Linked DNA regions of Homo sapiens: region 1 is linked to region 2. Evidence: fine-mapped expression QTL. A gene starts in region 2. The other region holds a variant in brackets. All regions are shown on one strand. Distances are between the middles of the regions.

The links. PIP is the estimated chance that this variant, and not a neighbour inherited with it, causes the effect.
Region 1: its variant is fine-mapped to the expression of MS4A6A in whole blood (TOPMed, PIP above 0.99).

The regions. Positions count from the first base shown.
Region 1 is chr11:60,272,797-60,278,184 of GRCh38, reverse strand. No RefSeq gene overlaps it. Among named protein-coding and RNA genes, the nearest start is that of MS4A4A, 5.2 kb to the left of the region's middle. The variant T/C (reference allele first, on the strand shown) is at 2,685.
Region 2 is chr11:60,180,183-60,185,570 of GRCh38, reverse strand. It overlaps MS4A6A (membrane spanning 4-domains A6A), which reads left to right and starts at 2,488. Exons shown (of 6, transcript NM_022349.4): 1 at 2,488-2,593; 2 at 3,830-3,990. The coding sequence starts at 3,844. RefSeq lists an enhancer at 102-261.

The DNA.
Region 1 (5,388 bases), 93 kb before region 2:
TGTGAGCTGGAGCAAGTTGCTTAGGCTTTCTGCACCTCAGTTTACTCATCTGTAAAATATAGATAGTAATATGTCATAGCGTTGTTGAAAGGGTTATATTAGGTAATATAAATAAATTACTTATCATTTTTTGAGCACAGAAATATTTCAGTAGGAAGAAATCATTCAATTATTATTAAATACTTCAGAGAGACAAGCTAACAACAGTAAAATGTTCACTGGATTTAGCCTGAAAGAAATCATTAGTGCCCCCTTCCCCAGTTCCCAATCAATTTTCTTTCTCCAGAAGCAAGTATTTAAATTTTAATTGTTTCTTTTTGTGTTGACTCCATATTTCTAAGTGAATGATTTTAAATACTGTTCTAATTTTTGGTTTTATATATTATGCACTAACCTCCTACTACTGAAGACAATAGACTAACCCCTATATCCTTCATTTTTACCCTGGACACACCTTCCCACCATAACACTTCCTTTTCCCTCATTCTCCCATATAGTTTTATCACGATTTTTTAGTTAACTCAATTTATAGTATTTAAATCATTAATGGCTAATTCATTATGAGTGTTATGATTACGCTTCCTTTTGACCATTTTTCTCTCTGAAGTTAGTAACTGCCTCATGTTTCATATGCTGTTTTCTACATACCTGAAAATAAGTTGTTTTAAATACTCCACCATAAATGTAAATCTCAGTGTCTATAGACCCACAGGTAATTGATCTGTTTCATTAGTATTTTTCTGTATACACTCTCCCTTCCTGGCGCCTTATATTCTCCTATTCCAGTTAGGACTGGTTATACTCTAGGCCTTCAGGGATCTTAATTCACTATTCTCAGGGAATTCACTTACTTAAGTATTCACTATTGATATGGTTTGGCAGTGTCCCCACCAAATTTCATCTTGAATTGTAGCTACCATCATTCCCACATGTTGTGGGAGGGAACCACTGGGAGATAATTGAATCATGGGGGCGTGTTCCCCCATACTTTTCTCGTGGTAATGAATAAGTCTCACCAGATCTGATGATTTTATAAGTGGTTTTCCCTTTTGCTTGGCTCTCAATCTCTCTTGTCTGCCGCCATGTAAGATGTGCATTTTGCCTTCCACCATGATTCTGAGGCCTCCCCAACCATGTGGAACTGTGAGTCCATTAAACCTCTTTTTCTTTGTAAATTACCCAGTCTTGGTTATGTCTTTTTTAGCAATGTGAGAACATACTAATACAACTACCTTCTCAGACAATTAGCTGTGTCCCCAGACATATTCAACTGAAAGCACTTATAATTCTTGAGACTTACTGGGGTTCTACAAAGAGAATCAAATTTTTTCTAAGCTTCCAATTCCGTCAGTCAGGTTTTCACTTTCCGGAGGCTGCTAAGTCATTTATTGCTTGTCTAGCTGGTTTCTAACATTTAAAAAAATGATCCAATTTCTCTCATATTATTTTTGAATTTTTGGATTTATGACTTTCTCCCAGACCCTTTATAGTCATTTAGTTGGGTTTCATGAGGAAATAGATGTGTTTAATCCACCAAGATTAGCCATTATTTGAAAATTATATTTTTATAAGTGTTTTTCTTACCAGTTCATTGTATCTCTGAGGACAGATAATGTATCTTATTTATCTTTTTGATTTCAACATTTCTCAATGTCTGACACCAGGTAGGAACATTTCTGTTGAATGCTATTGGGTGGGTAAAATAGAAACAATGCAGAGAATGGATGTAGGTGGCACATCAGTCAGCAGTGAACTGAGATACAGTATCAGAGAAAATTATATTACAATCTCAGCTAAAGAGATTGGTAAAAGCCTTAGAGATATCTGGAATAAAAGATTAGAACAGAGGGAAAATGTGAAAACAAATATATTAGGAAGTAGGAGTCATGTAAAGTTGAGGTGATAGATCTAAGCACTGTAATTCCTCATTTTGAATCTAGAAAAAATATTATTTTGTATCCTTTTAATAAAAATATTTTTCCAGTGCCTATATAATTCTAAATTAAAAGCACAAAATGTTTTTTTTTCCCATATGGGTTTCCTTTGTGCTTAAGAAATGGTTCTTCAAATAGTACATATGTAGCAAAGAAAGGTATTATTCTTAAGAAAACACTCTTAAAATTCTTAACACTTAACCTCAGATACTGGTGCCTATGTATATTAATATGCAAAATAAATGCCAGTGTCCCCTAAGGACAGGGTCTGTTTAATGACAATAGCCCAACTCGTCTATGCTGACACCAAAGTAGTGTATACAAATCACATTCTTCTCTTCTTTATCATTACAAGATCTCTTAGCTCTGACCAATTTACTGCTCTGCAACCATTTTTGCCAACTAATGAAATTAAGTTTTAATCTGAAACTCTTAGAAAATGACTTACAGCCAATCAAGTCAGTCAAATTGAACAAATATATAAGTTATCAAAGGAAACAAAAGCTTTCTTTTTTTTATTTCATCACATGCCTTCTAAAGGCCCACAATTATAGAGATGTCTAATCTCACTTCCCTTGAACATTGAGTTTCACAGAGGATAATAATCACCAACTATCTCTGGCAAGTAATTTCCCAACATTTTCATTTCATCAAGTGTCCTAAAGTCATGTTTCTAATACACCGGATTTTATCTTGTGAATTTGAGGCAGTTAAAATAAATTCCACAAAAAGCTAAAAAAATGCCAGTAG[T/C]TATTCAAAACCAGCTTTAGTGTTTTGATATATTTTTTACAGTCTCTCCTTTGAATTATGAACACAGATTCCTTAGCTATTCCAGGCTACCTGTACTATATTCAGAAATCCAAGCAAATACTATTCTCCAGCAGTCACTCATTATAATTTGCTTTAATGAAACAGTGGATGAATTAAAACTATGTTATAAACATTTTGATAGGCCAACGGACTTTGATTCAACAAGATTATGGCTCTTGTTATGGTTTCTAGGAAAAAAGTATTAAAACCATAAGATTAAGAGCTAAGAGGGAGCACGGATGATCAATGATACTAAGGGAAAACCAGGACACAGAGAATACATGAAGTCTCCTCACATGTGCAAGAAATATTTACTGTGAAGAATGTCTGAGAAAGAAAGTGGCTGAAGACAGTAAGGTACATCGCTGGGAGTGAGATGATCCAAGTTTTAATCTCAACTCAGAAACTAAACTCAATGCGATGTAGAGTAATATTTGTTTCTTCATCCTCAGAGTTAGAATAGGTACGTTCTAAGGACCAGCCGGCCTGATCTCCAGTGATTCTACACCTGGTTCGTTCTTCCCATCTGATTATCTCATTGCCAATATGAACCAGCTTTTTTAAGCACCACCCTTGCCATAAATACTGCCTACCATGTGTATCTCATCACCACCACATTTCATGAGTATTTTTCTTCCAATATGAGGATATTAATTCACAAATCCCAGGCCTTGAGATATACTGAGCTCTATGGAACATGCTGGCACTCTTAAAATGGAAGAGTTTGAGTTGACCTGTGTACAACATAGCAACACACATAGGCAGAACTCCAGGGCTGAAAGACCTAACATCTCAACCAGTGTCTACTGTAACAAGGAAGTGTGACTGGTGCCTGAACCTTTAACCTCCAACATTTTAAATACTTCATTTCACCCCCTTCTTGTTTGCATAGTTTCTGAAAAGAAGACTAATGTAATACTTATCCTTGTTCCTCTCTAGTTAAGTTTCCTTTTCTCCTTTATTGCTTCTTTCAAAATTTTCTCTGTCTTTGATTTTCTGTTTTTGAATATTATATACCTATGTATAGATGTTTTACTCTTTACTATGCATGGTATTTTCTGAGCTTCCTGGATTTGTGATTTGGCATCTGTTACTAATTTTGGAAAAATCTCAGTCATTATTTAAACTTCAAATATTTCTTCTCTTCCTTTCTTTCTTGTTTCTTTTTATGGTATTTCCATTATGTGTAATGTTATTCTTTTTGTAGTTGTCCTGCACTTTGGGGTTGTTCTGTTCTTTTTTTTTCCATTTTTTTTCCCTTTGCTCTTCAGTTTCGGAAGTTTTTATTGACGTATCTTCAAGCTCACTGACTCTTTCCTCTGACATGCCTAGTATACTGATGAAATTATCAAAAACATTTTTAAAATTTTTATTACTGTATTTTACATTTCTAGCATTACCTTTTCATTCTTTCCTAGAAATTTCTTCTCTCTGCTTATCATATCTGTTTATTCATGTATGTTGTATGCTTTTCCTGTTAAAGTCCTTATAATATTAATCATAGTTATTTTACATTTCTGATCCGATAATTCCAAAATCTCTGCCGCATTTGAATCTTGTTCTGTTGCTTGCTTTGTTTCTTCACACTTTGTCTTTTACCTTTTAACATACATTGTAATTTTTTTTTTGATAGCTGGACATAAAAGGAAGTAAAGTAAATAGGCCTTTTATGTAAGGTATTATGTTTATCTGGCTAGAAGTTAGGCTGCATTTATTGTTTGTTGTAGCTATTTGGGTCAAAGGCTGAAATGTCCTGTAATGTCCTTGTTTTGGTCTCCCCTATTATTATTGGATCTCCCTAGACACCACTTCTTAAATAGGGTCTGAGGTTTACAGTTCATTCACTATAATCTCCTGTTATCATACAGGATCCTGATTCATCTGATGGTAGTGTAGAGTGAGGGGAAACATCCTCTAGTATCATAATTAGGTCTCAGCCTTTTAGCAACTTGTGCTTCTCAGTTATCAACTTCACAAATGCTTCTTAGCCCCTACCTGAACTTAAGTCAGGCAGGATACGAGAGAGAGATGTAGCTGAATATTCAGTTTCCCCACGTGGAAGGATAGAGGAAGGTGGAGTTGTGTATTGACCTTTTCCAAGACTGGTTAGGTTTTGGTATTATCCAAATCAATCAGAATCAATCAGAATCTGAAAAAATAGTTTCCCTTGAGGGAAGACTTTTTTTGTTAAAGACAACAGAATGCCCTGGAGTATTTAAAAAATGGTTATATTACCTTCCTTAATCAGAAGCACAAGATTTTTCTCTGTTCTTTACACTAAATACCTGCTAGGACACTTTGAGGTAAAAGCCATGCAAGTGTTTGACCTCTCCCCAGGACTGGGCCTCATGGAGTTTCAGCTCCCAAGTTAGTCCACATTGAACATCCAGCAGTTCATCGGTTATAATTGATGTGTTCCTATTGTGCTTCTGCTCCTGGTAAGCTGGGAAGCTCTGTTTGGGCCTTCCTGTCCAAATTTCGGGACAAAAATTCAAGTCTGCATAATAACCAACTGACAACATGATGTCAAGATCAAACCTGCACATATCAATATTAACCTTGAATATGAATGGGATAAATGCACCAATTAAAAGGCACAAAGTGGCAAATTGGATAAAGAGGCAAGACCCAACTATATGTTGTC
Region 2 (5,388 bases):
GGCCCAAGGTGCAGCACAGGGCTGTCTGCCTGTAGATTTCATTTCTGCCTTTTAGTTTTTACTTCTTCTTTCTTTGGGGGCAGAAACTGTGCATAAGACAATATGAGGGGTGGTCTCCTCCCTTAGAGACAGAGCAAACATGGAACAGAAAGTAGGATGGTGGTTACTAGGGGCTAGGAATAGGAAGGAAAGGGGTGGTTGTTCAATGGGTATAGAGTTTCAGTTCTGCAAGATGAAAAAGTTCTAGAGGTCTGTTACACAACAATGTGAACAAAATTAATACTAGTGGTCTGTACACTAAAAAGTGGTTAAAATAATGAATTATATGTGTTTTGTACCACAATTTAAAATTTTAAAAATAAAAGTTGAGAAATTGATTTAAAGAAAATATTGTTCTGTTTCTAGCACACCTGCCTTTACACAGAACACACAAAAACCCTTTTGCTCCTAGGTCAGTAGCTCTCAACATGAATGTGAGGGGATTTTGTTCTCCCTCCATCAGGAGACATTTGACAATATCAGATACTGTTTCTGGTTGTTACACATAGGGTGGGATTGTGCTGGCATAGGCCAGGGAGTCTGCTAAGCATCCTACAGTGCACAGGATAGCCACCTACTGTAAAGAATTACCCAGTCCAAAGTGGCATTAGTAGCTTTTTTGAGAAACCTGTCCCAGATCATTAATCAGAACGTGTTATTGATATACCAGTCTTCTCCCTTGTAGTTAGGTTGGTAGAATTCAGACTCTGGAAAAAACTGGGAATGTAAAAGGCTGAATGAGTGTAAGCTGAAAGACAAGAGAAAGGAGAATTGTTTTAAGCTTACTAAAGCCAAAATGGAAAAAAAAAGAGGGGGGAGGATTGGGGGGTGAGGAAGACAGTCAACAGACCGCTTTTAGGCCATCATTCCGAAGGGTTCTGTGCTAGGAACCTTACACGTGTTGTCTCACATAATCCTTAAAACTCAGAAATGATTTTAAATTAAATAGCACAGAGAGGAAAACTGACTGGAGAGGGAGCCTTTGCTTAGGTAGGCAACTTTAACTGGTTTATTAGCACATTCCCCTGAAGGGAAAGGGGGTGTGATTGCTCCTGAAGAGACCAAAGAGACTGGGCTCCTTTTTAATCAAAGCTCAGGAGGAGAGCTGCATTCCACTGTTTCACAGATGCTGTGAGGGTGACAAAGATGCAGGGCACCCACTGGAAACACAGACGGCACTCTGCGAAAGAGGAAGGGGCGCCAGGAGCTTGGGTGAGCAAGGTTGGAGGTGATTCTGCCCCTCTCCCCAGGCTTTCTGTGTGAGTCCATTCCTCCTCTCAGATTTATTGTTAGAACTTAAGACAAGCCAATTACATTTCATAATGTCTGTGTCATTCAGACGCTGAGAACTAATCCAGCCTTCTAAATGGTGCTTCTTAACTCCTTTCTTCAACAGGAGAGTTAATGTGTGGAATTAAGTGCAGAATCCATGGCCCTCTGTGGTGACGGTGATGGTTCAGGTTGTGTTTCTGGGTTCATTCTGGAAGCTCCCCCAAGGAAAGGAGGAAGGAAGCTTGCAGGGTGGGGCTTTGCCATTGCCCTGACTGGCTCTGGTTTCCTTGCCTGATACATTGAAGTCAGCTTCCAAAGAATGCCACCCAAGGTTTTGAAGGGGCACAGTGCCTCTGTCCTCACAAAACCAGCCTGCATATGAGTTTACTGAATTCATTTAGGTCCTGCTGAATCTTTCCCATTTGTTCCTTCTCTGTTTCAATATTTCAATGCTTCCCTGGAGGGGCCCAACCTTTCTGGAGGGCAAAGATCTGTTGTTAGAGAAAAAGAGCAGCCAGAGGAGGAAGATGACTTGAGGGTAGGCAGCAGTTGGGCAATCAGTATTGAAAGGTTGCTTTCAGCCTGCCAAGACTTGGGGAATTAGAAAAGCAAGATAAAACAAAACAAACAAACAAACTATATATATAAAAAACAATTTTTTAAAAGTTTTTTTATGTTCTATATTACTATTAGCTATATATTAATGAATGTTCCTTTAAAGCAGTGTAGTCATTATTGCTATTATTATTATTATGGTTAGTTATAGACAGTGGAATATTGTTCTTTCTCTATATTATGATTACTAGCACTATTACTGTTATTAGTTACATGTTATTGAAAGCTTCAAAGCAGCATAGGCTTTTTATAAATATTTTTGCTCATCTTTATGACAATTCTCCAGTGTTGGTATTGCTCCTCTATTTAACAGATTAGAAAACTGAAGCTTCAAGAACAGACTTGCCTAACAACAGGAAACTTGTATGTCTCGAAGTGGCAATTCACACATAAGGCTCCATGACTCCTGAACTCTCACAAATATTAGTTGGCTCTTTTCATGGTTTTACTGAAGTTGCTAGAAGTTTACAGAAAAGGAAGTGCAGGAACATTTCACAAATCTACAATCTGTGAGTATCACATCCTGTATAGCTGTAAACACTGGAATAAGGAAGGGCTGATGACTTTCAGAAGATGAAGGTAAGTAGAAACCGTTGATGGGACTGAGAAACCAGAGTTAAAACCTCTTTGGAGCTTCTGAGGACTCAGCTGGAACCAACGGGCACAGGTAGGTAATGCTGGAAGACTTTTCTCATCTCACTATTCCCTTGCCGTGACCTCATTAGAGGAGTAATTTAACTTGAAACTCCTTGACAGCAGTTAAGAGACACTAGGGCCTTTTGGAAATAGAGTGGGCAAATGGAAGGAGTATCTGTTTTTAACTCTGTGTCCGCTGTATTCTAATTGCATAAACTCAGTGAGTCACTTACCTAAGGTTGTGTAATTAATGGGAGCAGAGCTCTTGTCTCTTCAAATGTGTTTAGACCATTTGTAAACTGGGCGGTCTGTGCTTTGAGAATGGTGCCGTGAAAAGGGATCCAAGCTGAGCTTAGCAACAAATACCACAACCTACTTGGTCTTTATGCTAAAAAGTGGGGAGGACCAACGACGCGAGCCTATGTGTTATGAGTCCAAGACTTGTTCTCATACCACTGCATGCAGCTGTTTCTCCAGCCTGAGTAAACTCAGACACAGGCTGGCAATGCCAGGTGGGAAATTAGGAAGAGGTAGAATGATCTAGAGATTTATGCAAAGGCTTCAGACTCCAGGAAAGCTGAGATCCAAGACTGGTTTTACAGCTTCCCGGCTGTGTGAACCAGGGTGAACAATAAGGGTAACTGCAAATATTTCTTCAGCATTAACTCTGGGCCACACATATATGCAATAGGTATATTATTTGCATTCATAACTTAAACTTTATTTTGCATTTTCTTATTTATTACATGTTTTTACTAACTTACTAACATGCAGAGCTGTTGTAAGGATTAAAAGCACTGCAGGGTAAAAATTAAGAATGTGTCTGGTAAAATATGATAAACATATCTGAGTGCTAATAAATAGTATTATTAAACAAGAAATAAGTAAGCAGAGTTCATTTATTAGTCTGAAAATTCATCAAATATATGGCAATACAGTTGTTGTCAGTAGGACTAGAGGAAAGGGAGGTTGTTGCATATTGCAAATTTTGTGTGACCATTTGCCTCTGGACATTGAGACCTCTCAAGATTCATGTTGCTGCCACCCTGTGATGTGTTTATTATCTATAATGGACTGTGTCAAACATTATGGAAAAATCCTCATGAAACCAAGATTGTGTGGTTTTCACTGTTCCATACTATCAGTTTCTTTCTCTAATGGACAGGCCAAGCCTAGACTAATTGGCAAAGACTGAGTTACTGTTTTTGGAGTCAGAACCTGGGAGCTCTGTACTTTTTAAGAGCTAAATCTATTTTTTCTTACATAGTTGGCAACACCATCATGACATCACAACCTGTTCCCAATGAGACCATCATAGTGCTCCCATCAAATGTCATCAACTTCTCCCAAGCAGAGAAACCCGAACCCACCAACCAGGGGCAGGATAGCCTGAAGAAACATCTACACGCAGAAATCAAAGTTATTGGGGTAAATCTAATTCAGAACGTGTTGGAGAGGGGTTGGGGGAAGTGCCAAGAGATGATATATGTCTTGGGACTGGACATCTGTCGTGAGTGTGGAGACCCTAAAATTTTGCTAGAGGGACTTTAGGGTAGAAGCCACTTGGAGAAAACTGTCCCAGAACTTTTCCACAAGAGGTTGTCTTAAAAATATATTTTCCCTTATTCTGAATATGAGGAATTGATTTTCTATTGTTGTCTTTGTATTTTTACAATACAGTGCTTTTCTATATTTTCTTTTACAAAAGTAATGGTGGTAAATAATGACATATTGTGTGTATGTGTATATATTCCACAACTGCATGCTTAATAATCCAAACTGACTTTTTGCAAATAATTTTTCCCTCACTGCAAATTAGAGGAAATATACAACTCCTTTTCCTCTTTTCTCCTAACGTTTTTGAGAATGGAAATGATATTCACCTTTTGTTTGTCTGTTTCTCCTCTCACCCAGAATTTATTAAAGAAGCTGTATTGCATGAAGGGAGGAGAGAAAGAAGGGATCTATCTTGGATTGGGAGGGAAACACAGAGTTTTGGTTTCTAGAATTGCCTCTGCACTTATGTGATCTGAGGTGAGGCACTCTGTTTGACTGGATTTCAGGACCTGGTGGGACTGGTTTCCTTGCCTCATGTACAATCACATGGGTTTCTATGAGGCTCATGTGACATAAGGTCTAGAAAACTTTTTGGTAAATGATAATAGAGCTGTGAATCTCTGAGGTGGATGTCAGGAAGGAAAACTACCTCCTAAGACAGAGCTTCAGTTATACATGAGAACATGCAGTATTTGGTTTCTGTCCCTGTGTTAGTCTGCTAAGGGGGATGGCCTCTAAATGATGAGAACACATGGACACGTAGAACAGAACAATGCACACTGAGGCCTTTCAGAGGGTGGAGGGTGGGAGGAGAGAGAGGATCAGGAAAAATAACTAATGGATACTAGGCTTAATACCTGGGTGATGAAATAATCTGTACAGCAAACCCCCATGACACAAGTTTATCTATGTAACAGACATGCAGTTGTACCCTTGAACTTAAAATAAAAGCTAAAAATAAAAGAGCTTCCAGAGCTTCAGCTATAGGGTTGTGAACTGCAGTTTCCGAGGAAGTGACCAAAGGGGCAAACTCCATGTCCAGTGGAGTCTGGGAGATGAGGGGAGGGCCTTCTGCACTGCCAATACTGCAGAGAATGTGGGGGCTTTCAGATGTCCCCTGTTTTCAGAGAGATAGAAAGAGAGTTAACTAGTCATGGACTTAGAGGTCCTGAGAGCTGGGAAAGTAAATCTCAGCACTTGCTGTGAGCTGGAAGCAAGTCTCATGAGCAGACCAGGGCCTGAGAGGCAGAAATGCAGAAGCCTTCCTGA